Linked DNA regions of Homo sapiens. The protein of the gene in region 1 purifies or fractionates together with the protein of each later gene. This does not show direct contact. Each region holds a gene or a part of one and is shown in the gene's direction. Other genes may lie near its edges.

Region 1 (3,500 bases):
CCAGATCTTATTCACAGACTAAGTACCTGAATGACATTTGCTAAGTTGTGTATCCTGCTAAGGTCTTGATTTTGTCCCAAAGATTTTTTCCAGCTCTAGAATAGATTGAACCTTATAATTTAAGAGATATCCTGGACATTTTATATATTATCCTTAAATTTGAGGAACGCATTTTTAACAAAGGACTTTTATAGTCATGATCTCATTTGATCTTACAATAACCTTGTAAAGTGGGTGGATAGGTAGAGAAGTTAAATCAGCGTTCTTGGACTCTTTATGGGCTTCCTTTCTACTATTCATTATTTAGCCTTTGCTCTGCTTTTCCTGTTTACATACTTTCCCTCCTTCATCCACTCACTTGGTTTCTTCTCCAACCTCCCTACTCTCTTCCACATCCAGTTTACCACCCCAACCAACCAGTTCATATTTGCCAACTTTCATGTGGGTAATAATTTTAGTATGTGAACATGTGCATATGTGTATGTATGTGTTTTTGTTTTTAGGTGTTAATTAGGCATAATGTACAGAAAAATGCTCAAAAAATTTGTTGAGTTGTATAAAAAGTGTACAACTCAACAAATTTTCATAAAGTGAGCATCCCATGTAACCAACATTCAGATCAAGGAATATCATATTACTAGCACCGCAGAAGTCTCCTTTCCCCCACTTGGTCCCTACCTCCTTATGAAGGTAACTGCTATCATTATTTTAAATATCATGGATCGTTTGGCCTGCTTTTGAGCTTCAAGTAAATGGAATCATATAGTATTTACTTTTCATATGTGGCCTGTTCATCTCAATATTATTTTCTGAGATTCATTTATGTTATGGCATGTAGCAATAGTTCGTTCATTTTCACTGCATTCTATTGGTGAATATATTATAACTTATTATGTTGATGGACATTTGGGTTGTTTCTGCCTATTATGGATAGTGCCATTATGAACAATGTGTCTTTTGGGGAGCATATATATGGATTTCTGTTGGGTATATGCTTAGGAGTAGAATTGCTGAGTTATAAGGTGTTCAGATATTTAGCTTTTGTAGATATTGCCAATCTGTTTTCCAAACTGGTCGCACCAATTTACATTCCTTACAGCAGTGTATGAGATTTCTAGTTCTTTCACATTCTTACCAGCACTTAGTGTTGCCTACCTTTTTTCTTATTTTTTAGGTCTCTAAAAAAAATTTTAGTTTTGTAAGTTGTAAACTGACAAATTATAGTTGTATATATTCATAGGGTACAAAATGATGTTATGATTTACGAATTCAATGGAATAATTAAATCAAGCTAATTACCATATCCATCACCTCAAATACTTAACATTTTTTTGTTGTACACTTGCAATTTACTCTCAGATTTTGAAAGTACATTATTATTAATATCTTCACCATGATGTCAAGATATCTCAAATAAAAAAGATAATTTCCTGTCTAGTTGAGGCTTTGTACCTTTTGACCATTATCTCCCCGTTCCCCACTCCCCTCAGCCTCTGGTTACCACCATTCTGCTTTTTGCCTCTTTGAACTCAATTGTTTTAGATTCCACGTATAAATGAGAATAGGCATTATTTGTTTTTCTGTTCCTGGCTTATTTCACTTGGTATAATGTTCTCCACTTCCATCCATGTCGTTGCAAATGACAACATTTCTTTCTTTTTTTAAAGGCTGAATAGTATTATATTGTATATGTATACCACATTTTCTTTATTCATTTATCTGTTGATGGACTTTTAGGTTGATTCCATAACTTAGCTCTTGTAAATAGTAAATGACATGGGAGTGCAGACATCTCTTTGACATCTTGACTTGAAATGTTTTGGGCAAATACCCAAAAGTGGGATCAGTAGATCCACCTGTCTTTCATTTTAGTTATTCTGACAGCCATGTTGTGATATTGACTTGTCGAGTTCTTTTACATTGCACTGATAATTAATGAGGTTTAACATCTTTGTATATGTTATAGGACATTTGAAGATCTTTTTTTTTATGATATACCTGTTTAAATTTTTTTTTCATTTTGTAATTGGAATGTCTTTTTCTTATTGATTTTTTTTGTTTTGTTTGGAAATGATAGATATATCTTATCCTACTCAGTGGCTTGCCTTGTTTCTGTGTGTTTTTAAGTTAAAAAAGATTTTAAATTTGGACTAACTTAATTTGGAGCATGACTCACAACAGTGTCAAAAGAAGTAGAAAGATTAACGTAAGAATAAAAAGCTATTTCAGTTTGGCCAGGAGGAAGACATGACTAGCAATTAGTGGGATTAAATTTCTTGAGGTTGAGAAGTTGGTTAAAAAAAGTAGAAAAAGTGCTGGGTGTGGTGGCTCATGCCTGTAATCCCAGCACTTTGGGAGGCTGAGGTGGGTGCATTACCTGAGGTCAGGAGTTCAAGACTAGCCTGACTAACATGGTGAAACCTCATCTCTACTAAAAATATAAAAATAAGCTGGGTGTGGTGGCGCATGCCTGTAACCCCAGCTACTTGGGAGACTGAGGCAGGAGAATCGCTTGAACCCGGGAGGCGGAGGTTGCATTAAGCTGAGATCATGCCATTGCACTCCAGCCTGGACTATACGGTGAGACTCCGTCTCAAAAAAAAAAAAAAAAGTAGAAAAAGTGAAAGATCGATTAAGCACTTGCTTATTGACTACCTAGTGTGGGTCACACACTGTGCTACACATCCGGGGTACATGCATACACAAACCCCACTTCTGTCCCTCAAGCTCCTGCTGTTGTATGCTCAGGAATTATGAATGTGGCTGAGAAGGTTAGCCATCAAAAATAAAAGAGAAATAGGATAATAGTTTCTCAGGTGGTTGGGCAGCAGAGAGTATGAAGAGAAATCTGGAAGAAAAGTCATGATTAGAAGGGAAAACATGACCCAAGGTTGGGCAAAAACAAACAAACAAGCAAAACAAACAAAAAACAACTCTGAGATCAGAAATACAGTTTAAAGAAAAAGATGACGTCAGAAAAATCTGATTTAAATAGGAAGAGAGGTGAGAGACAAAAGATTCGGAGTTTATAAAGTGACAGACTTGAAAGAGAAGAGTAAGAGAAAATGAGAATATGACTATGAATTTTAAGGACTTTAGGAGGACTGGCAGGGAGCCTACGTTCCTAAAAAGATGTTGAAATAATTATGTAGAAAGAAATTAGAAATATGTTACACAATAAAAGTTGCCTTATATTCCTTCTTCAAAAGAGATGACTTTCCTTTATTTTTAAGTTTGTTGTATATTCATTTAGCTTTTCATATGCATATACCAAAGCAGATAGGATCAGATTATATATAGTGTTTTGTACGTTTTTCTTCCACTTTGTTATATTTATGGTATCTATTTCTGTCTGGAACTATTGATAGTATTTTGTTTTGTGGCTATTCCACGCTTCAGTCAATTTTATTCAAATTAGTTCTAGTTTTTCTCTGATTATAAAATGGCAAATTAGTTCTAATTTTTCTCTGATTATAAAGCATAAATATACTTATGTTTAT
Region 2 (3,500 bases), on another chromosome or scaffold:
GATTCAATGAGAAAGATGTCTGTCACCTAATAAATGCCTTTTTTTTTTTTTGCCAGTTATGAGGAAACTAAGGCTTAGAAAAGTGAGAGTTCATATTCAAGGTTACGCAGGTATCAGTGAGTTACCAGCCTACTACTCACTCACATAAGGGCTTTCTGCTATTTTATTTATATCAGAATGCATTTCTGAATCCTGACAGATGAGAGTCATCCCTTGGAGAACATGTATCTATTAAAACTCACTCCAGGTTGCTTTAGAGGCTTAGAGCAGGTATTCTTACATTTCCAATAAAATATAGTGTGTGATCGTCAAGTGATTAGTGCAGCTTCTAAGTCACTGATGAGCAGCCACTAAAGTGGATACAAATGAGTTTTTCCTAGACTTACCTCTTAGCGCACAGTTGAAATGTAGAAAGTGAACATTCCTTAGGATTCACAAGAGGATGGATCCTGAATAATTTAAGGATAGCTTTAGGAGCCAACAGTCTTGAAAATGGTAACTATGTGAGTAGTGGTAGTGTGATTTAAACCTACAAAAATGCTGAATAATAGAGGTTTAGAGCTGCAATGTGCAATAGAGATCATGTTGTCCAACTTTCTCATTTCACTGGCTTGAATCACATTGATCAACAGTCTGAGATGCAGGAAAATTGAAGTGTTTTCCACTCAGCTACCTTGCAACAGAATCAGGCCTGGGAGCAAGGATTCTATTCCTGTGTCCTCCCTTAGAATATGAACTTATGAATGCTGAAGATACTTCATATCTTTCTTTAAAGGAAATATGTATCTGACTGGAAAATTACTTGTAGCATATCAAAGTGGGCCTAAAAAATAGCATGCTTGGTATGTCACTTGAAGATTGACCTTGTAGTAATAACATATTTGAGTAAGCTTCTTGAAGTGTAGCGTAAGGAAAGATTATAATGCCCTTCTTTTTGTAGATGCAGTGTTTACATTATAATTTAAAACATGAATTTTTTTTTCTTCTTTCACTGAGAGCAATGCAACTTTAAAGCAATAGTCTGACATTTAGAGCCATTATAACAAATGGATTTATGGTGTATACACACCCACAGGCAGAAATACACATATAGATAAGGGCAGTTGAACCTACTGCATTAATCCCTGTACCCTGAGTTTGCTCTTTAAAGTTGAAAGTGGTATTAAACTAATGATGTTAATTGTATATATTGGCAAAATACCAATAGGGCTCTTTTTTTTGTCCTATAACATGGAATCTGGAGGAAGGATCATGCTCAGCTCAGGAAGCTAGGGCTGCAGGTCCTCCTCTATCTGAGTCCCTTGACTTGGCCTTGCCAATTGGTGACTTCATCCTCAAGGTGGTTGTAATAGCATTTTGAGCATCACATCTAGATATAACCACTTCTTGAGGAGGAAATGAATACCTCTTCCATTGGCTTCCTAAGAGCAGAGAAGCTCTTTCCTGAAGGCCCCTAGAAAACCTTTCACTTCTCACTGGCTAGAATTGTGTTTCTTGCTCAGTCCCTAGCCCGGGAATGTGATCATCACAGTCAGTTAAGACCTGCAGGTTTACCCCACTGAGGCTTACAGGGAGAGGGCGGATGTCTGTTAATGAGGAAGTATGGGGGGGCGTGGATTTTAGGTAAGCAGTATAAATGGGTCTGCTAATTCTGCTACCTTTATTTTCTATACCCAGGCTCTGTCTCTGTGATGCTAAAACAATGAGTCAAGTTGACTAATGTGACAGTGTAGTTTAATTGGTGCAGTGAGTAGCAGAAATCGGTTATACTGGTTTGATCAAAAGTTTGACCTGTTTACACTTTATGAACAGACTCTCTTTCAGATTGCTGGAATTCTGTTGTAACGAATCAACCCTATATATCCTTAGAATGCTCCCTTGCATTCAGTAACCATAGCTGTGCATGTTATAATGTATGTGCATGGAAGGTGGCTCTACGGGGGTGATTGAGGGACTATTACTGGACAAAAGAGATCAGGTTAAAGGCTGTTGATTCATGGGCTGCTATATTACTGTCCAAACCACCCTTTTGCATTTGGATCACGTCTTGGTTAGAGGGGGGAAAGTAGCACTTTTTGAGAACCTTGAAGAAGTGGGAGACTGTTCAACAGCTGCCTGTATCTCAGTGGTGGCCAGTAAACTGAAACAAGTTTATAAGGGAATAAAAATCAACCAGTGACAAGGGGTTCTAATGTTAAATGCATATATTGGCAAAATGCCAGTAGGGCTATGTAGGGTGGTGAGCACTCACAATTGTTCACTAAAATGCTGTTTTTAAAACAGGAAAGTAGAATGGTTGAGTGCAAATCCATAGCATGAGATAAATTGAGCTTCTTAAGGCAAATCAGCCTAGGCAAATTCATTTCCGTGTTTTTGTGTATTTGGAGATGCCAGCTCGTCACTCAGCCCATGGAGCTTACAGGTCCTGATCACTTGATCTAATTGTATGGATGTGGTAGTTTGTCTTCCCTGGGGCAGAAAACAAAGCTTTAATTTGGAACTAAAATTGTTATTATTTTGCATCTAAAGGTATGAGTTTATAGACTTTTGATGTTAGATTTTTAAATTAGAAGGTCACTGAAAATTTCCCTTAAAAATGACCCCAACGAATTTGTGTATTTTGTATAAATTGGTTTGTTATATTAAAGCATACATACATAATCTATATGTGATTATGTATTCATTAGGAATCAAACTGAATTTTGGCCATTGATGCACAGCACTGAATGTTGTGGAATGTAATTTTTGTTTGTTTTTGTTTCTGTTTTTTGAGGCAGAGCCTTGCTCTGTCGCCTAGGCTGGAGTGCAGTGGCGCAATCTCAGCTCATTGCAATCTCTGCCTCCAGGGTTTAAATGATTCTTGTGCCTTAGCCTCCTGAGTAGCTGAGATTACAGGTGCTCTACCACGCCTGTTTAATTTTTGTGTGTGTGTGTGTGTGTTTTTTTTTTTGTAGAGACAGGGTTTCACCATGTTGGCCAGGCTGGTCTCGAATTGCTGACCTCAAGTGATCCACCCGCCTCATGCCTCAGCCTTACAAAGTGCTGGGATTACAGGCATGAGCCACTGCGCCTGGCCGGGGAATGTATTTAAAGATATAACACAAGTATATAACTGAATACCATTGTGAAACATTAATTATCAATGTTTTATTGTGTCTTTTAGGTGTTGAAATTCCGTAAACTTAACTTCAATGGGGAGGGTGAACCCGAAGAACTGATGGTGGACAACTGGCGCCCAGCTCAGCCACTGAAGAACAGGCAAATCAAAGCTTCCTTCAAATAAGATGGTCCCATAGTCTGTATCCAAATAATGAATCTTCGGGTGTTTCCCTTTAGCTAAGCACAGATCTACCTTGGTGATTTGGACCCTGGTTGCTTTGTGTCTAGTTTTCTAGACCCTTCATCTCTTACTTGATAGACTTACTAATAAAATGTGAAGACTAGACCAATTGTCATGCTTGACACAACTGCTGTGGCTGGTTGGTGCTTTGTTTATGGTA
Region 3 (3,500 bases), on another chromosome or scaffold:
AGAGCAGAGGAGAAACACCTCACTGCAGTTTCAACATGCTTTCCAAGAACAATATATACGACATATACATTTTCCTGCCTCTCTCTTGTGACAATTTCTGTTAGAATTTGTTGGGGGTCTGATGGTTAAAATCATGGGCAAGGCCATTCTCTACATCATTGCTTAATATTTCAAAAATAGGTATTAGAGCACTATCAGTGGTCCAAAATTAGTTTTAGCTACTTATTTTGCTCCATGGGTTTTGGGCTTTTCAAAGAATACTATGTATAATTTGTAATTGAAAGCCTTTCAGTAGGATATCCAAAGTTCAATGTGTTTCAAAAGGGAAAACTTTTACTTGTGGGGGTGGGAGTTAGATGTATTAAAAAAACGAAACTACAAAATCCTTTTAAGAAAGTAATACCAATTTAGACTCTAGTTTGTGTTACGAGGTATTCTTTCAAATTTTTTTTAAAAGCCAACTACTGTCATTAAGAAATAATTTTAGATTTGTGCTCTAGCAGAAAATAACTCTGTACCCATCAATCTTATTGCCAACATTCCATACCAGTGGTAGGAAAGATATTCTCATTTTTTTTATTGAACCAGACATTTTTATAAAATACTGATTGACTTTGTACATTATGGATATTATATATGAAATTTTGCCTTGTATTCTTTCACTTGAAAAAACTCCAAAATTCCACAATATTTTAGTAGTTAACTTCCTATTCTTTCTTAAATTTGATGGAGAAGGGAAAATAAATTGCAGTTATTGATTCTTGCCATCTTTGTTTTCTTAAAGAAATCTATGCATTTTAAGGATAAAACTAAAGCATATGGGTTTACATGAAACATCAGGATGGATTATTGTACATTGAATTCATTCCGCGTATAATGTGGTATTTCTTACTCTGTCCATCTTGGTAGCTGTCACTTCAAAAGAAGACAGTTTCCCTGAGTAATCATCACCTACATGGCCATTAGAGTATCTATCGGTGATAATTCCATGATACAGAGTATCTTGGCATTATAAATTCAGTATCCCAGGACCTAAACCTTTATGCTACATTTTCGAAGATTTTTTAAAAATAATATTGTTAATCAGTAAAAAAAAAAAATATTTTTGATCTAAACATAGGTTCTGCATATCTGTTAGATTTTAAAAATGACTGGTGTTTTGTCTTCACATTTTTGTCTAAGCAAGGAATATAAGATTTCAAATAAAATTTTGAACCAAAAACATTTATAATGCCGTTCTGGTTTTTCTATTACTTTTTATACTGTACTTTAAAAGCATTAGGCTGAAAGAGTTTATTTTGGTGGTCAAAAAAAATATGCTTCCACTCATGTAACTATTTTAAATGTTAAGAAGTAAAATAATGAAAGATATGTTAATTACTTTATTCAGTAAAGTTTTTTAAGAATGTTTATCTCAGCCAGTAGGCAAATACTTGGTGTAAAACAAGTTGGTCTTAAATTGTTGCAACTCATTAGCTAGTGAAGATATTCATGTAAATATATTTTAGGATTGTAATTAATTTTGAAAATGTAGAAAGCTCTTTATTCCATGTAAGTATGCAGGATGCCTGCTTTTTTATGCAGTTGTGGAAAGAATGTAAAATGTTTTAATATATTCTTTGTTAATCTGAGAACTTGATACTGAATCGTTTATGTGGGAGAAGGAAGGAGTAACATAAAACATGTTTTTATCACTCAAAGTAAGCAATGGAGGTAACAAATATTGTGCATTTTAACAGTAATATTTGAAGATTTGTAGAATATTCACCTTTAAAACTAGTTAGTATGCATTTATAATTTTACCAGAATATACAACTAACAATTCAACAGTGATGTTCTTTGCATTTGTGGGGAGATGTGTGATGTTCTTGGTTTTCTGGTTTGGAATGGAACGTTTATAGCCTTGCCTGTAAAAATGTGCCCCAGCACTTAATGAGTGACCGTTTGAATCCATATGTAGTCCCATTGGTGCTAATGAGAGTAGCTGCTGTGAAACAGGAATAAAATGTGTCTGTTCACGGAGGTGCGGTGTGGATGCACCTACAAGGCCAACTCTCTGATCAGGGTGAGGGAGAGATGGAAGAATTAACAGATCTAAAGTTGGCCTTTGTTGTCTCAAATTGGGTTTGTACACACATGCATGCATGTGTGTATACAACTGTAATCTGGAACTTCAGGAAGTAAAATTATTTGAAGTTTCTTAGTAAAAAGTAATTAGGTATAATTCCAAATAGATTTCTGTATAAATTGTATCTAACTGGATTACAAGTCAGTTTGACAATTTACGATGTCTCAGTGATGTTTCTGCAATAATTGTGAAATGCATTATTGATTTAAATAATGCTGACACGTACTCTTTAAAAGTGTTCTTTAACACTGACTACTAAACTTTAAGTTTTAAAAAATAGGTTTTCATTTATGGCTTTTTGTGGTTTTAGCACTTTAAGAAGTTTAATTTTTTGTAATTTTTAATATGCTCTTTCAGTGTATCTCAGCGGGTACTCCAGCTTGTGGCATTCCCATGTGACTGGGGAGAAGACAAAATTGGTGTTTAGATTCTGGAGGAGAAAAAATGAGTTACAATGTCAGGTGTTTTTAAAAATTCCTTTTAGAGACAGTCTTTTGGGAACCAAAGTATTTTACTGTAAATCTTTAAAATAACAGAATTCAGTGCTCTTTCATTTGTTAATGCTGTCCAGATTTTTCACACAGTTATACTCAGTTAATACTAGTTTTCAGAACATTAGTCCAAGGCTATTTCAAGTTTTCCATTGAATATATGCTTATGGTTAAAAGAAAAACGAATGGTTTTATAATTCTGTGTATTTTGTCATATGCCTTAGCAGAGTAAGTCATTTTTCCATTTTACTTAGGAATAAGCTTTTTCGAACTGAAAATTCATGGTAAAATAGGATTTCTATCTAATGTTAATCCATTGCTTATTTGTATTCAATTCCATTGTCTACAGTTTGCTTAAATGTTGACTAAGAATGATTGGAGTCAATAAATTTGTACTGTATTTTGCTTCGAGTCAGTCTCAATGGTATGCCCTGTACTTTGATAGTAACCGGGTGTAGCATTTACATTTGTGAAAGTAAAGTTAAAATCTTCCTATTTGGGTAATGTGAATAGCTGTGAGAGATTTAATTTTCCCCCGTTCCAGGTTGCTTATAGAATTAAGGTTGTATTAAAGCTTTAGTTATTTGGGCATCGCAAATACGATGATTAAAACCAGATAGGCAACCATCTTTGCTCATCTGCCATTTCCTTTACTATTCGAACTGGTAGTTTTTAAGTTGATGGGGCAGGGGGGTAAATGCAGAAAAATAACATTTTTAAGTACCCTGCATTGATATTTCTGCATAGCAGTTGATAAACCAGTTTTATTTGATAATCTAAAGAATTTAATGTCATAGCTTTTTTTTTTCATTCTAATGAGGTTTTTCTGTAAAACCGGGGTATATCATTTTTAAAAATTTTATTAGCTCTCCCTGTAACGT
Region 4 (4,230 bases), on another chromosome or scaffold:
TTGACCCGGCTGTACCCTCTACTCAGAAAACCCTCTCCATCCTCTGTGCTGCCTGGCTCTGTCCCCAGCACCTTGGAGGCTGATTAAGTATTGTAGTCATCTTTTTATGTTTACCTCCACCAACAGACTATGAGTGCCCATCACTGTTGACCTCACATCACCAAACTATAAGCATTTCCAGGGCTGGGACAGAGTTCCTGCAATCTCTTTGGTGCTGACACATAGTAGGTACTCAATTAACACTTGAGCTAAATTGGATTTAGCAGCTTGATCAGAAACGCCTTCCCCAAAGATCCCCTCCGTCTCATTATCCCTGCATCTCCTCCCCAGCCCTACTTCTCCTTCACTGTAAATCCCCCAAATCCCACCTGTCCTTTACCTCCCAGCTCAAGGATGCACTCCGTCCAGAAAGCCTTCCCTACTACTCTCACCCTTGGTGAGCTCTCTACTTCATAAACTGTAGAATCTTTAAAAGGTTGTTTTGAAGATTAAGTCAGATCATGGAAGTAAAATATTGGAACACGACTGGGCACATCATAAAGGCTGGATAAACTTGGGCTAGTCGTTAGGAAGGAAAAGAATGGCCTCTTCCTGCTGCTTCCACTTCTGAAAGCCGCCAGAGGGCGTCCACTACCCAACATTCCCTGGCAGGGGGTGCGGGAGAAGGGGCCCTTCCCCAAGAACAGAACTTCCTAAAGCGGATGTTTGAACCTCGCAGTTATACAGAAGACTTGTAGGAAGGATGGACAAACGTTCTTAAGCCCATGACGGCCCTTAACCTGGTCGCTCCCTTTTCTGATGGAGACTCAGGCAATAGCGTGTGTGCGTGTGTGTGTGTGTGTGTGTGTGTGTGTGTATCCGTGTGTCCTAATATCAGACATTTGTTCTTGTTTTCCAGGCAGCGTCTCTCTAGCTTCTTTCTGCAATGCTGTAGTACTCTCTCCAGTATTTCAGGAGGAGGAGCATTTGCTATTTCAAAAACGAAAAACAAAAACCTGGCCACATCCATTTTTTTCAGCAGCCATGCGATTTCCATCATTGCTCACATTTTATGGATGAGGAAACTGAGTCTTAGAGGAATTCAGTAAGTGATACCTCTCTCGGATGTGTTGAGTAACTGAGACTGCACTCCCTCCCAGGCTGGAACGTCCTGGTACTCCCACCCCCACAGGCTCAGTTCTGTGCATTATCTGCCTTTTTCGGGGATTGTGACCCTTCTTCACAGCCTCCTCCCTCAGAAAGCCACCACCATCAGATCCGATTCTCCATGGTACAGCTTCTTCTTTGGTTCCACTCTCCAGCACCCTGGGGAAGCAGGAACAGAGGCTGCTGCCACTCTCTGACCTCTAAGGGGTTAAGGCCTGGGTCCCGCCCCTCTTCCCGCCCGCCTGGCGGGAGTATGAATAGCCTCGCTCCCACTCCCGACTCTCAGTCGCTCAGGCTACTCCCACCCCGCCCCGCCCCGTCATTGTCCCCGTCGGTCTCTTTTCTCTTCCGTCCTAAAAGCTCTGCGAGCCGCTCCCTTCTCCCGGTGCCCCGCGTCTGTCCATCCTCAGTGGGTCAGACGAGCAGGATGGAGGGCTGCATGGGGGAGGAGTCGTTTCAGATGTGGGAGCTCAATCGGCGCCTGGAGGCCTACCTGGCCCGGGTCAAGGCGCTGGAGGAGCAGAATGAGCTGCTCAGCGCGGAGCTCGGGGGGCTCCGGGCACAATCCGCGGACACCTCCTGGCGGGCGCATGCCGACGACGAGCTGGCGGCCCTGCGGGCCCTCGTTGACCAACGCTGGCGGGAGAAGCACGCGGCCGAGGTGGCGCGCGACAACCTGGCTGAAGAGCTGGAGGGCGTGGCAGGCCGATGCCAGCAGCTGCGGCTGGCCCGGGAGCGGACGACGGAGGAGGTAGCCCGCAACCGGCGCGCCGTCGAGGCAGAGAAATGCGCCCGGGCCTGGCTGAGTAGCCAGGTGGCAGAGCTGGAGCGCGAGCTAGAGGCTCTACGCGTGGCGCACGAGGAGGAGCGCGTCGGCCTGAACGCGCAGGCTGCCTGTGCCCCCCGCTGCCCCGCGCCGCCCCGCGGGCCTCCCGCGCCGGCCCCGGAGGTAGAGGAGCTGGCAAGGCGACTGGGCGAGGCGTGGCGCGGGGCAGTGCGCGGCTACCAGGAGCGCGTGGCACACATGGAGACGTCGCTGGGCCAGGCCCGCGAGCGGCTGGGCCGGGCGGTGCAGGGTGCCCGCGAGGGCCGCCTGGAGCTGCAGCAGCTCCAGGCTGAGCGCGGAGGCCTCCTGGAGCGCAGGGCAGCGTTGGAACAGAGGTTGGAGGGCCGCTGGCAGGAGCGGCTGCGGGCTACTGAAAAGTTCCAGGTGAGGAGGTTGAGGGCCTGGGTGAGAGAAAGTCCCAGAAAGCTCCAGAAAGTCCCTTATGAAGCTCAGAGACCTTCTGGGAAGGGAGTGGGGCTAGCTGGCTGCTGAATCAGGAGCCAGTTCTCAGAAACCTGGTGCCACAAGTCCTAGACTTTTACAGCCCGTCTAGTGTAGGATGCGAATGGTGGGGCTTCTCGAAGCACATCCCGGGTGGGCAGTCAGGCCCAAGACCCGTTGCAGCAGCCCCGCCACTCTCTGGATGGCACCTTCTGGCTCTGATGATGACCGGGGCTCCGGGTCCCTTCCCAGGCTCTGGTATTACTAGGAGGACACCCAGCACTGTCGCCTCTGCGCTGAATCTGGTGGCCTGGCCACTCAGAATCACCAAGTTCCTCACAGCCCTCCTTCTCCTGAGGGGAGGAGTGAGGGGCCGTGAATGAATGGCTACCAGCCCCCTCCCATGTCATGGCTTCTCGGCTCCCTGGAGCACATTCCAGAGGCCCATAACAGCTGCTCCTTCTCACAGGGCACAGATGTGACCAGCAGCTGAGAAAACAGCTTCTTGCCTGGGCCACACAGAGGTGCCATGGCCACCTCCCCATCCCTCCTCTCAGAGGAGACAGAATCCAGAACATGTGGGAAATGGGGGTGGGGCGGGGGTGAGAGCCTGCTGTGAGGAGCAGGAGACAGTTGTGGGAGATGGGACCAACGGGGGACGGGGGCTGTTTGCCTTCCAGTCCTGCAGGCTCCAGGCATCTTGATTAATCGTTTTTCCTTCTGCTTTCGCTTTTTTTTCCCCCTCTTCTCTCTCCATAACCCATCTCGTCTCCTCCCTCACCTCCCCTTCCTGTGGGAGCTGTGTTCTGAGCAACATGTGCTACCATTTAATCAGCATCCTCAGAGGAGGAGCAGGCCATGGGAGAGAGCTGAGAGTGCTGACAGGGGCCCTGGGCTCATCTTGGCTGATCCAGAGGGGGCTCTCTGGGCAGGGAATAGGGTAGGGGAGGCGGGGGTCTGCTACACAGATAAGTCAGCCAGGGAGCAGGAGGTGCTTCCCGGGCAGCGGCAGCGGGCAGGAGGCAGGTTGGTTCACAGAAGGGACCCCAGCCCCTCCACTGACTGCCTCTCGCCTGCCCTGCAGCTGGCTGTGGAGGCCCTGGAGCAGGAGAAACAGGGCCTACAGAGCCAGATCGCTCAGGTCCTGGAAGGTCGGCAGCAGCTGGCGCACCTCAAGATGTCCCTCAGCCTGGAGGTGGCCACGTACAGGTACGAGACGAGCCCTGTCCACCCAGGCACACAGAGGCACACACACATGCTGGGGCAGACTACGTGGCTGAAGGGGACCAGAGGTGTAGGTGATGGCAACTCTGCTGCCACTGGGTTCTGTGACTCTAGGCTGGTCACTTCCACACCGGAACATGTCCTGCCTGAAACCGTCTGCTCCCCCATAGGCTGGAGACCTGAGCAATGTCCTGTGCCCAGGAAATCCCCCCAGGAGAGATGATATTGCCGAGCGGGACAGCCTCTGGAGAGGGGCTGGGCCCGTGTGGGGCAACTGCATCCAGACCCTTCCCCCAAGGGGCAAAGCTCCAACTCTATGTGTGCCCGCACCCAGGGGGTCATGTCCTTTGGCAGCCACGGAAAGGAGGCATTGCAGGCATGGGGTGGCTGCACTGACTTGCCACCTGACCTGGGCCTCAGCCTCGTCTAGGGGCTGAGGGCTGGGCTGGGGGACTTCCAAGGCCTCTTCTAGCCTGGATGTCATGGGGCGAGACTCCTCTGATGCCCCTAGTGCCCTTGGTCCTGCCCAGCCTTTCATTGTCCACATTTTCTGTTATCCTAGAAATGGCTGAGACCAAGGAGGGGTGGCTTCT
Region 5 (3,500 bases), about 110 Mb from region 1:
TAGTTGTTCAAAAGGAGGTTGAATTTTTTTTCTAAATCTTAGCCCCAAAAGAGAATGAAGTGGAGAAGGAAAATAAAGAGTCTGCAGGCAAATTCTCCTTTGACTCCATTCATATAGATATAGGTATAGGTATAAGTGTAGATATAGGCACATTAAAGGTGTATGTGTAGACATAGACATATAGCATTGCAAGTGCTGTTAGGAGGGCCCAGGACCGCTTAGCCTACAAATTGTATCTTTTTTCCCCAAGAGAAGGGATCTGGCATTTATTGAATGTCTATTCTGTACCAGGCTCTCTACAAATTTTATCTTACTTCATCCTCATAGTAACCCTCTGAGCTTGGTGTTATCTATATCTACGGAATGAGGAAACTGATGATCCCAGAGGATAAAAGCTTGCCCAGCACACAGATCCTAAGCCTGTGTGGCCTTATGGCTTTCTCCCTTCCCCAGTACGTCTCCTCTCTGGTTACTGGTGTTCACGTTTTCTGTTCCATGCCGCGGCTGGGCCCAGTGATGGTGGGTATGTGACGGATGCCTCTGTTTTAGGACTACGCCGGCTGTGCTGTTCTGGCAGTGGATTAACCAGTCCTTCAATGCCGTCGTCAATTACACCAACAGAAGTGGAGACGCACCCCTCACTGTCAAGTAAGGCTACGAGAATTGACCACTCTCTGCAGTTCTTCAACCTTCATTTTATTAAGTGGTGATACTCTCCTGTTTAAAAAAGCCTATGTGTGCATATTTTTATATTGTTCAGAATATTATGTAGCATCCTTTTTTGTAGCTTTTTTCTTTTTTAAAGTAAAGTGTTTCATTTTCTCTCTCCCTATCAAGAAAACAGTCTTCTTCCAGCCTGCCTTCTCAGACATTACTCGTGCCTTTGGAGGTACTGGTAGGATGTTACCTCCTTCTCACCCTGGAGCTCATGGCCCTGTAGAACACATGGCAGGCAGCACCGGCCTGGCCTCTGATAAGTGACAGGCTGTTCCGCCATCTACCCTGCCTGAGTTGACAGACACCAACGTTAAGAGTAGAGGAGACAAAGTGTGGTCTCTGCAGAAATCAAGGGGAGACCATGGCGGTGTGAACTTTATATCTGATATGTTTTTAAAATAGCTCATCTGTGGAGTCCAAAAGAAAGCAATGAGTTTTAATTTTTTGTCACCTGTTAAAAAAAAAATAGGCTCACAAGATTAGTTAACCAAAAACGTTAGTTAGCATAATTGTATTACACTTGAAAGAAAAGTGCTTCTCTTTTTTATCACTTAAAATTGCTTTTGACAACACATATTCTTCTACTATTGTTATATGGAACAAAGGATCTTGAAATCTGCAGCCAAGTGGTGTTTATTGCAATTAAAATTTCTTTTAAAAGAAGAGAGAATTGCTTGGGCTTTATAGTTTTTGGATGATAAGACTTAGTATTTTTATACAGTTAAGATATCATTTTTTAAATGGCAGCACTTCATTTTTGCTTTCAGTGTGTATATTAATATTTTGAGAAATATTTTTAAGCAAATATGCCCCAAACATTTAGCCCAATATGCATTCCCCTGTATTCATAGCTTCCTACACACAGCTCCCCTCCTTCTCACGAATACAAAGTCTGTATGTTTATTTATTTATTTTAACCAACTCACTTCAAAGAATACATGTCTACTTTTTTGGAGTTATAGTCAAGATACGTGTGAAGAATCCCATTGTTTATGGATCTGCTTGCTTTTTCTCTAGATTCCCCTACTTGTGGAGTGATAGTGAATGTTGTTTTGTAGACTCTTCATTCTGAATCATGCTCTTTTATATTTCCCTTTTATTTCTTCAAATAATGTTGCACCAGAGTTTCCTGACATGCCCTCGTCGTCCACACGATATCCTTTTTTCTTTTCAGTGAGTTGGGAACAGCTTACGTTTCTGCAACAACTGGTGCCGTAGCAACAGCTCTAGGACTCAATGCATTGACCAAGGTACTCAGATTTTTATTTCCATAATAAAGCTGTTTAATTTGTTATCACCTGCCTGGCTCTAAATCCCTCTATTATTTCTTAAACTAGTTCAAGTCATATGGCTTTCTTGTTATAGTGCTTATCTTCAGCTGCATATTTTAGTTATATCTTCCAATAAGTTTGGGAAGAGTTGTCACCAGTAACACCTACCAGGACTGTGGTCTGTGCCTGACTCTGTGTACGAAGTGCTAAATGTTCACCCATCCTGACAGCCCACCAGAGGCATTGCAGAGGGCAGTGTGCCTCAGGCCACAGCTCTGAAGAGAGGCAAGAGCATCTCTCTCTCTCTCTCTCTCTCCCCACTCCAAAGCCCATACTCCTGCAACCACACTTAGCTACAAGGCCTTAGAAGCTTGCATGGTCCCAGCACACCCATGTGGGAAATATACAAATACTGCTAGGAAAAGTTTTGAAAGCATTCTTGGCCTGAGTTTCTATGCAAATGGGACTCTGCATTTTTCAGAGTTTTCAAGAAGAAATAAGTTATTTCCATTTACTAGTACAGGAAAAATAAGATAAAGCTCTTGAAATTTTCTCCTCTGCAGCATGTCTCACCACTGATAGGACGTTTTGTTCCCTTTGCTGCCGTAGCTGCTGCTAATTGCATTAATATTCCATTAATGAGGCAAAGGTAAGACGAATATGCACTCTTAGTAGGGACATGTGCTTGACAGGAGAGTCTCTTGTAATAATTAGCTTTGTTGAAACTTTCAAATGCTTGTTTTAATATGTATAGGTGAAATTATATGAGATCTTGGATTTCTTTTGAAATACTCTGGGGTTGGGGATGAGGATGGGCGTCTTGAGAAAACAAGCTTAGCGATGAGTTACTGATTATTGAAGCAGACTGAGGAGTGCGGGGAGGGGGCTGATGCTGGAATAGTCTTTCTATGTCCGTATAATAAAAAGTTTAAAAGATATATCTCAAGCTTACATTGAGTTGTGCTTGGGTTGGACAAAGTCTATCCAAAGAAAGTTTATTCTCTAAAATAGATTCCTTTTTTTTCTCCAGAATTTTCTTTTGGGGCTTAAAGTACATTATTCTATATCTTTGGAAGTATTGTTGTAGAACTGGCAAAAATTAAAGGAGAAGAAAGAACAACAAAAGCATTTTGGAATGGATAACGAAAAACAGGGGTAACGGTAGAAGTTATACTTAGTGTTAGTAAATATAGTTAATAAATATACAGTAGGGCCATGTGCGAGTGACTGTTTCCATGTCAGCATATTAAGTTTGTTGACTTAATAATGCTGTGTATTATATCTGTTTCTCATTTGGAAAGTTGCTCAAATTTGCACATGAGCATAGATTGAAGTTAGTGTGTCCACCCTTTGAATCATATTGTTCCTGAAAAAGGTACACCCTGTTTTAAAAGTTTACTAGTGTTGTTTTACTTTTATTTCTATCAAAGGAGGATTAAACTTATCCATGGTATTTAAAAATAGATGTGTCTGCTGGGCGCAGTGGCTCACACCTGTAATCTCAGCACTTTG
Region 6 (4,067 bases), on another chromosome or scaffold:
AAGTAAGCAAAAGTTAAAGAAAAAAAAAGGAGGCTAGTAGTTCTCAATGTCAAGTACTTAAGAGTTGTTGCATGAATACTGGAGATAGTCAAATGAGCCAGTGGCTCTTTAACAATATAGGGAATTAGGAGCAAGTATGAGATTCTGATTATAAAGTTGTAGGAAAACTAACTTCCCAGAAAAATGCACATAGAATTATGTATACAATGTCAGGCGAGTTATGAACTCTGAAGCCCAATCACCTACCACCAGATCCACAGACCTCAGGTTAAAAACCCACTAAAACTAAGTTCTCGGGGAACAGGAATCGCCAAACTTGCTTACTAATTCTAATTATGCCTTACCCAGGGCAATGTATACAAACACTACTTAGGGAATATTTGCTGATCGATAATTTCCTCATAAAAATAACCATAACACTGGCGAGTCGTTTTTTCCACTAAAGAGCCTTTTAGTCAAATTATTTTAAAAGTCCTAAACCTTTCACTAGTAACACCAATGATCTCGAAAATCATTATTGCGCTATTCACATGTCGACTAAGCTATCACGAATCCAGGTCTTCCAGTTGTCTCTCTACTCCCTTAAAATTTAGGGCTTCCTCCTTCGCATCCCAAAAGCTACACCCGGAGCCCCGCTGCCGCCAGGGAGACAGAAAATGATGCTCCACGAAGCACACAGCTTCAAAACAGGAAAGATGGGATCCAGTGATGGCTACAACTTCCAAACCCTTTTCTCACCAGGTCCAGAGGTGAAGGGATTTACCTCAAGTTCCAGGAAAGCGGTGGCGATTGCTCTCAAATACCTGGTACCTCCCCGTCACCATAGTGACTTCTAAGAGTTACGCTCCCTTCCTCTTCCCGCGATACTTCTACGCGGCACGTCATCCGAGTGGGCCCGAGACCCCGCCTCTCGGCGAGCCCGCCCTCTTCTGAAGAGGCGTTTCTGGACCACTGAGCCCCGCCTCCCACTGTGAGCGGAACCCTACCGTTTTTAAAAAAATCTTTTTCAAAACTTGCCAGGTTGTCTTTCCAAATATTTTTAATAATAGTGCTGCTGCTGTAGACCACAGAGAAAAGAATCCCTCGCTCTTCCTTTTCACTTAGTAGAAACTTCTACCGCGTAGGTCCCGCCAGGAGTTCGCGCATGCGCAGGAGCGACAATAAGATGGCGGTGATAATCGCCGCACTTTTTTTCAAATTAGTGGATCCCAGAAATCATTGCGCGCATTTGTAACGAATTTCCGTTCGAGTTTGTATTTTAGGCGCCATTTTCGAGTGAAGGACCCGGAGCCGAAACACCGGTAGGAGCGGGGAGGTGGGTACTACACAACCGTCTCCAGCCTTGGTCTGAGTGGACTGTCCTGCAGGTAAAGTACTTCTCTTCCTGGTCAGGTTGTCACGCTCTTACTTCCTGCCTTGTCCGCGAGCGCCTGGAAAATAGAGGCCTTGAGCCCGAGCGGCGAAGTCCGGGCTTGAAGCTGCCGCTGGGAGATTTCTCTTGCTGTCACCCCTCCCCCCTCGGCCGCTCCCCGGCGGCCCGGGCTCCCGCGCGCAGCTCCCGGGCGCCACTTTTCCAAGCTACTCAAATGTCTCGGGGAGGCCCTGAGCCTCGCAGATCTTTTCTTTAAAAAATCCTAGTCTCTATCTGGAAAAGGGCGTCTCCCCCTACCCCTCTTCCTTCTGCCAACGGACTAGTCACCGGGTCTCAGCCTTCGCTGGTGACCTTTCATGGTTTACTGTCCAACGGGACTCCGCCTGGGGAGCTGGAGAGACAAACTCTTGCCACTCCAAAATTAGCAAGCGCTGCCAGCGTCCGACTTGAAGTTGCTAGTGGTTAGTCCCAGCCTTCGCCCTTCGCGGTCCGACCGCTGAGAGGAGGGAGACTTCGTTATGCCCCGGGCCGTCAACGGCGCCAGGAGCTAAAGGGCGGGCAGACGAAAGCGGGCGGCGAGTCGCCAGTTAGTCTTCACCGCTCTGGAGAGAGTTGCTAGCCACGGGATCCTGACCCGGACACGAACTCGTTTCTCCACGTCGGTGCGCGCTTGCATCCCTGGCCCCGAAAGCGTGGGAATGTCCGGAAATGCTGGCGTATGGGAGTTCCTTAATTAGAAATGCGTTAGCGAATATTATACGCTTATACTATGGGCGGACGGGTGGAGAGCCTTAAAAACAACAACAACAAACTAAGCAGTTGCTCAATCGTTGATTGATCCTCAGGCACGTCTAGATTTTCCCACTTACATAGGTCTTGTTAAGAAACCAGTCCTGCCTTCTTGCCACTCGTGTCTTTCGATGGCTCCCTTCCCGAAGTCCCGCTGCCTCTAAGCGGAGTGTTAAGCGGGGCTCTCGGAAGCCGGTGGACCGAGATTTCCCCGGGTGGGGCGGGCGCGGTGTAGCGGCCCGCGGGCTGACTTGCTCCCGGCTGTCCCCCGGCCCCAGCGACCATGCCCCGTAAAGGCACCCAGCCCTCCACTGCCCGGCGCAGAGAGGAAGGGCCGCCGCCGCCGTCCCCTGACGGCGCCAGCAGCGACGCGGAGCCTGAGCCGCCGTCCGGCCGCACGGAGAGCCCAGCCACCGCCGCAGGTGAGTGACCCGCCGCGACTCGGCGGGAACGCGCGCTGTGGGACTGGCAGGCAAACGCGCCCAGCCCGAGGCTGGCTGGGGTTGTTGAGCGCGGAGTTGACATCTGAAGGTCCGGTGTCGGTCCGGTAGAGGCTCAGGAAAGCCATTTGGCAACTTTGAGATAGGATTCCCGTGCAATTTTGGTGTAACGGCGCTGGAAGGGATGGGGGCGAGCAAACGGGTTCAGTTGTGAATTTTTGTTTGTGACCTGTGGAATGGTACAGGTCACAAACAAAAATTCAATATCTTTATTGTATTCCCGCTAAAATCGAGACGGTCAATCAAGAGAGCAAGTGGACTTTTTTCCCAGAGACAATCAATATGACTATGTGAGCATGATGAAAAGTTTTTTGACCCTAACCTCACCTCCGTGGTGTTAGATTGCCGTTAAAGAGAAGACGATAATTTATTTGAAGCCACTGTAGCTTTTGTGAGTCCAGGAGTTGGGTGACATTATTAAACCCTCGTGGCAGTGTCGCTGAAGTTCATGAGTTTCCAAAATGAAGGTTCCAGGTGCTCAGCGGTACGGAGAATTGCATCTAGAGCCTTAGGATTTAACCTCCTGTTTAGGATAGGCAGCAGGAAATAGCTTGTTACGGTTTTCCCAGATTTGCTCTATGATGTAGTGTTTTGACTCTTAAGAGGTATAGGTGTATAGAATTTTGTGACCGGTGGCATTTCTTTCAAGAATTTCTTTTTTAGTAAAACCAAGCTGAAGGTTTAGTCACCCCCGTGAGTTTAAGATAATAACATATTTAAGTGGAAAATATAGACTCCTAAGTTTCATAAATAACATCCCTCCATCCCCTACTTTAAAGATGGGCAGTCATTAGTTCTCCGAACTAATTGCACTAATGTAGGCTTTTCCCCCGCCGTTTGCCTTCGTTTTCCTTTCCTTTCACTGACTTAGAGACTGCAAGTGAGGAACTTGATAATAGAAGTTTAGAAGAGATTTTGAACAGCATTCCTCCTCCCCCGCCTCCAGCAATGACCAATGAAGCTGGAGCTCCTCGGCTTATGATAACTCATATTGTAAACCAGAACTTCAAATCCTATGCTGGGGAGAAAATTCTGGGACCTTTCCATAAGGTATTTGTATGGAAATAACTATTTTATAACTTTTTAAATAACTATTGTAAGGTAATACGTTTTTACAAGATGTTTCAGTTTTGTAACTATCCTAAAATTCATTCACTCCCTATTTATCCTGATAGTCTTTCTGTCTCTCTCTCTCACACACACACACACACGTTTCATATGATTTTAACACTGAAATTATCTTTTGTTTATCTGGTTATCTTTGGTACCTCTAGTTACAAAGTTTTCCATTGAATGGAGTCGGTGTGTGTTTCTGTTTGAAAGAGTATTTTCCCTTGGATAATTTTTTTTTCTTAAAGCCTTCTATGGAACCCTTAGATAATTTAACTATAAAATGAGTTTTCTAA
Region 7 (3,500 bases), on another chromosome or scaffold:
ATAATATCACTTGGTGTAAAATTTTTATACTCTACAAATATCCGACGGGAGGGTTAGTATTATCTGGATAGCTGGAAAATAAAGTAACATTAGTGGAAAGAATATAATCAAGATTTATTAAAAGCCTATGTTGTCCTCAAAAGCCTAGTGGCTGGCAGCTTTTTTCTGTTTCTTGCTTGTAGCTGCACTTGTATAACTCTTAGTAGTATGCCAGGGATCCTTTTCATTAAAGGTCTTTGGTACAGGTAATGTTGCTAATGTTAAGTTAGTACGTTTTATTTGTCGAAAACAGCTTCTGATATGCTGTTAATAAACCCCAGCCTTCAATATGAATATGAACTGAAGGACTTGAGACTCGTAGGTTGATTCATGGATTTTTCTAACTTGATAATAGTGCCTTATTGAGCTGGTGGTCAGTGGAAAAGAGTGGTTGTGACAAAGTGTATGTTTCAATGCTGGTCTCTAACATACGTGCCTGTTTGTACCATGTGATTTGTAACATTACCACAGTGGCAGCTGCAGGGGCATTGGGAGTGCTGACCCCATCCTGCCTGTCTGGGTTGTGTTGAATTATCTACATATAGTCTTGTGACATCAATGGTATATATTTATAGGATAAAGCAAAGTTAACTTGTGACAAAAGCAAATACGCCACATGGCGCGATAGTGAGTTTGAATCTGGCAGACCTGGGTTTGTACCCTGTCCTTTTACCAGCTCTGTGACCTTGGGGCTTGAGTTTTCTCATCTGTAAATTGGGGTAATGTTGTGAGGATTACCTTTATATAAAGTATTCAGTAAATCTTATTTTTCCCCTTCTTTCCTCAGTTGCATTATTGTGCTGAAATTTACTAAACAGGTCAGCCAAAAGCATCAAATTATTATTAATGATTTCAAAAGAGACCCTCTTTTTTCCCCCTCACTCTCCAATCTTTTATGTTCAGCTAGTATGTTTGGAGTATCTATTGTTTTCGTGGCTCTTATATTCAGTTATTAGGAGGTGTATAATACAAGTTAATAATAAAAAGATAGAAGCCCTCAAACCTTTTTTCCTGAGATGGGCAACATTGAAATGGACGAGAACCAAGAACCTGCACCACCTTACATTTCGGCAGTAGTTAGGATTGCAAGGTCATTTCACATCCATTCTTTTACTTGTTTTTTTATGACAACCTGAGATGTAAATAGAGATGGTTTTATTTTCACCATTTTCCAGTTGAGAGCATTGAAACTCAGGGAAGTCACAATAGTGAATTTAACAGCTAGACCAAGATGTACCTTGCCATAAAAACAAAAAATTTCAAAATACATAAGTGGCATTTGGTTTTTGAGTGGGTAAGTTTGTGAAGGGGCATCCATCCATCATCCACTAATGCAGAAATAAGGCAGTAAGGGAAAGTGAGAGCGAAAGCGATAAAGGGAGGACACAGAATGTGGAAGATCTAATGAGCGGGGGACAGAGTCTGAAGGTCACACATGGGGAGTGGGTTGATGAAGCCCGTGATGAAAGGGGCAACTTGGCACTGGCCCATTTTAAGATCACGCCACAGTGGCCAGAAGGAGCTTCTATCAGTGTTTCATGAGCAGTTACTTTCCTTCCAATACCAGGTTGTCCTTTTGCTCCTTGTGAATTTAGGCTAACCTCATGACCCCAGCTGTGCCCCTGTTAAGAGACTCCGGCAAGATACGTAGTCCCGACTGCCTATTTTAGCAGTTCCTCATGGGCCAACTTCTTACATTTTCTTCTTATGTTTCCTGTTAAATCCAGAGAACAAGCTGGACATGCTAAACATGGAAAATACTATACATGACAACAAGCCATTAGGCAGTGTTGTCCATATCCGACACAGTGCAAGGGTTTCCCCCATGGAATAATTCCAATGGCTAAGTCCACTCCACTTTTAAATAACTCATAAGATTGGCCTTTCACGGGTTCCCTGGGGCATTGTTCTAGAGACTAATAGGTTTTACTGTTAGGAAAATTTCCGGATATTCCTTAGCCTTACTCTTCCTCTCTGCTTATTTATCCACTTATTCATATCAGTGTTTCTTCAGCTGTTCTTCAACAATTTCTCATGGGTTGACATGAGACATTTAGGCTATTATTTCTTGTGTATTAACTTATGTGCTCTTCATGAGGGTAAAGAGATATTAAATAGCTCTAATTATTATTTCTAAGACTTAAAAGCTACCAGCTGGCTGGCTGTATGAGATACAGCATTTACAAAGGAAGGAGCACATCGATTGATACATAGTCCTGTGTCTTTTGTTTCTCATATCTGCTTAGCCTCATAACTTTCTCAAGCTCAGCAAGATTGGATTACCTCTTCTTACCTTTGATACCTGGTTCCCATTCTATCTTGCTACACCTACCTAAGGTAGGAGAGGTGCTGCTTGTACCAAATAGGTCATGTCTCTTCCTCTGAGCGTGCCTATGAACAGGCATGCTTATGCACACCACCTACCTTACAGGAGAAATGGAAAGGAGCGGGAATGAGAAGCCAATAGTATTTGCTCATGGGTAGACCAAAATGTGCCCAAGTTCTGTTTTTTAAAAAAGGGGAAGGGTGTCGAAAGGGTTTGCTGTCAGATCTGCATTACGTCTGGGACCATTCCCTGGGACATACCACCTCTCTACTATTTACTTGTAGAATTGGGCTGCATTGGGAGTTGCTAGTCTAAGCATTTCAGCTTTTTCCCAGCCCTGCTGCTATTGACAGAAAAATGCAGAAGCTGGCTGGACCCTTCTGGCACATTTTGTGTTCACTGGGAGGGTGGGGTTTATAGGAAATACTGCTGCTGCAATCCTAATCTAATTATAGTGACTTGAGCTTCAGTTGCTTTGATAAACTGAAGGTTTGAACCAGGTGATCCATGAGGGCCATCTAGCTCTGTTATTCTAGGACTGATTCTGCTTTGAAGTATATAGAGCAAAAGATGGTGTGCATAAGCATGCCTGTTCATAGGCGCACTCAGATGAAGAGACATGGCCTATTTGGTACAAGCAGCACCTCTCCTTTTGAGACCTCCAGTATTTGTGCCTTCGCCTCTTAAATTTTGCTGTCCACCTTAAACGTTCACTCAAGAAGAACACTTGCATTTCTGATTGGTCTGCTGCTGCCTGGCCTCCCACTGCTACGTACCCTTTCTTTGAGGTTCACACTCCTGACAGCCCTGGGGAAGCCAAGGTGGCAGAAAGAACTGGGAGGGAATAGAAACAGTTTCACAGTTTCTCCAAAGTCAGTGAAGTGAAAAACAGCTGTCTCTGCACTGGCTGGCAGAATGTACCCTGCCGGCTAATAAAGGCCATTAGAAAATGCAGGCTCCCTCCAGCCAGCCGTAAGCCTCCCCTGGATCGTGATGCCTTTCATCCTGTGAAGTACCATGGGAAGTGTGACTCTGAAAACAGAGCAGGAAGCCAGGAACCTGGAGCCTGACAACCAAGGGCAAACTGGGACCAGAGGCAAGGACCAACCCCAGGAGATGCCCAAGGGACAGAGGT

The links.
Region 2: the proteins of DEPDC1B (region 1) and CA2 purify together in Homo sapiens (affinity purification with mass spectrometry, with the first as the bait; one large-scale study listed by BioGRID). This does not show direct contact.
Region 3: the proteins of DEPDC1B (region 1) and ZBTB21 purify together in Homo sapiens (affinity purification with mass spectrometry, with the first as the bait; one large-scale study listed by BioGRID). This does not show direct contact.
Region 4: the proteins of DEPDC1B (region 1) and NES purify together in Homo sapiens (affinity purification with mass spectrometry; one large-scale study listed by BioGRID and IntAct). This does not show direct contact.
Region 5: the proteins of DEPDC1B (region 1) and SFXN1 purify together in Homo sapiens (affinity purification with mass spectrometry, with the first as the bait; one large-scale study listed by BioGRID). This does not show direct contact.
Region 6: the proteins of DEPDC1B (region 1) and SMC4 purify together in Homo sapiens (affinity purification with mass spectrometry; one large-scale study listed by BioGRID and IntAct). This does not show direct contact.
Region 7: the proteins of DEPDC1B (region 1) and CHCHD3 purify together in Homo sapiens (affinity purification with mass spectrometry, with the first as the bait; one large-scale study listed by BioGRID). This does not show direct contact.

The regions. Positions count from the first base shown.
Region 1 is NC_000005.10:60,690,167-60,693,666, reverse strand, and holds part of DEPDC1B (DEP domain-containing protein 1B), read left to right. Parts: intron 1-3,500.
Region 2 is NC_000008.11:85,477,507-85,481,006, forward strand, and holds part of CA2 (carbonic anhydrase 2), read left to right. Parts: intron 1-3,163; coding exon 3,164-3,283; 3' UTR 3,284-3,500. UniProt on the Homo sapiens protein: Catalyzes the reversible hydration of carbon dioxide. Can also hydrate cyanamide to urea. Stimulates the chloride-bicarbonate exchange activity of SLC26A6. Essential for bone resorption and osteoclast differentiation.
Region 3 is NC_000021.9:41,986,361-41,989,860, reverse strand, and holds the end of ZBTB21 (zinc finger and BTB domain-containing protein 21), read left to right. Parts: 3' UTR 1-3,030; downstream 3,031-3,500. UniProt on the Homo sapiens protein: Acts as a transcription repressor.
Region 4 is NC_000001.11:156,674,608-156,678,837, reverse strand, and holds the start of NES (nestin), read left to right. Parts: upstream 1-1,430; 5' UTR 1,431-1,573; coding exon 1,574-2,356; intron 2,357-3,497; coding exon 3,498-3,622; intron 3,623-4,230. UniProt on the Homo sapiens protein: Required for brain and eye development.
Region 5 is NC_000005.10:175,509,560-175,513,059, forward strand, and holds part of SFXN1 (sideroflexin-1), read left to right. Parts: intron 1-549; coding exon 550-648; intron 649-1,891; coding exon 1,892-1,967; intron 1,968-2,551; coding exon 2,552-2,637; intron 2,638-3,500. UniProt on the Homo sapiens protein: Amino acid transporter importing serine, an essential substrate of the mitochondrial branch of the one-carbon pathway, into mitochondria.
Region 6 is NC_000003.12:160,398,383-160,402,449, forward strand, and holds the start of SMC4 (structural maintenance of chromosomes protein 4), read left to right. Parts: upstream 1-1,267; 5' UTR 1,268-1,367; intron 1,368-2,176; exon of another isoform or gene 2,177-2,439; 5' UTR 2,440-2,444; coding exon 2,445-2,583; intron 2,584-3,532; coding exon 3,533-3,711; intron 3,712-4,067. UniProt on the Homo sapiens protein: Central component of the condensin complex, a complex required for conversion of interphase chromatin into mitotic-like condense chromosomes.
Region 7 is NC_000007.14:132,792,091-132,795,590, reverse strand, and holds part of CHCHD3 (MICOS complex subunit MIC19), read left to right. Parts: intron 1-3,500. UniProt on the Homo sapiens protein: Component of the MICOS complex, a large protein complex of the mitochondrial inner membrane that plays crucial roles in the maintenance of crista junctions, inner membrane architecture, and formation of contact sites to the outer membrane.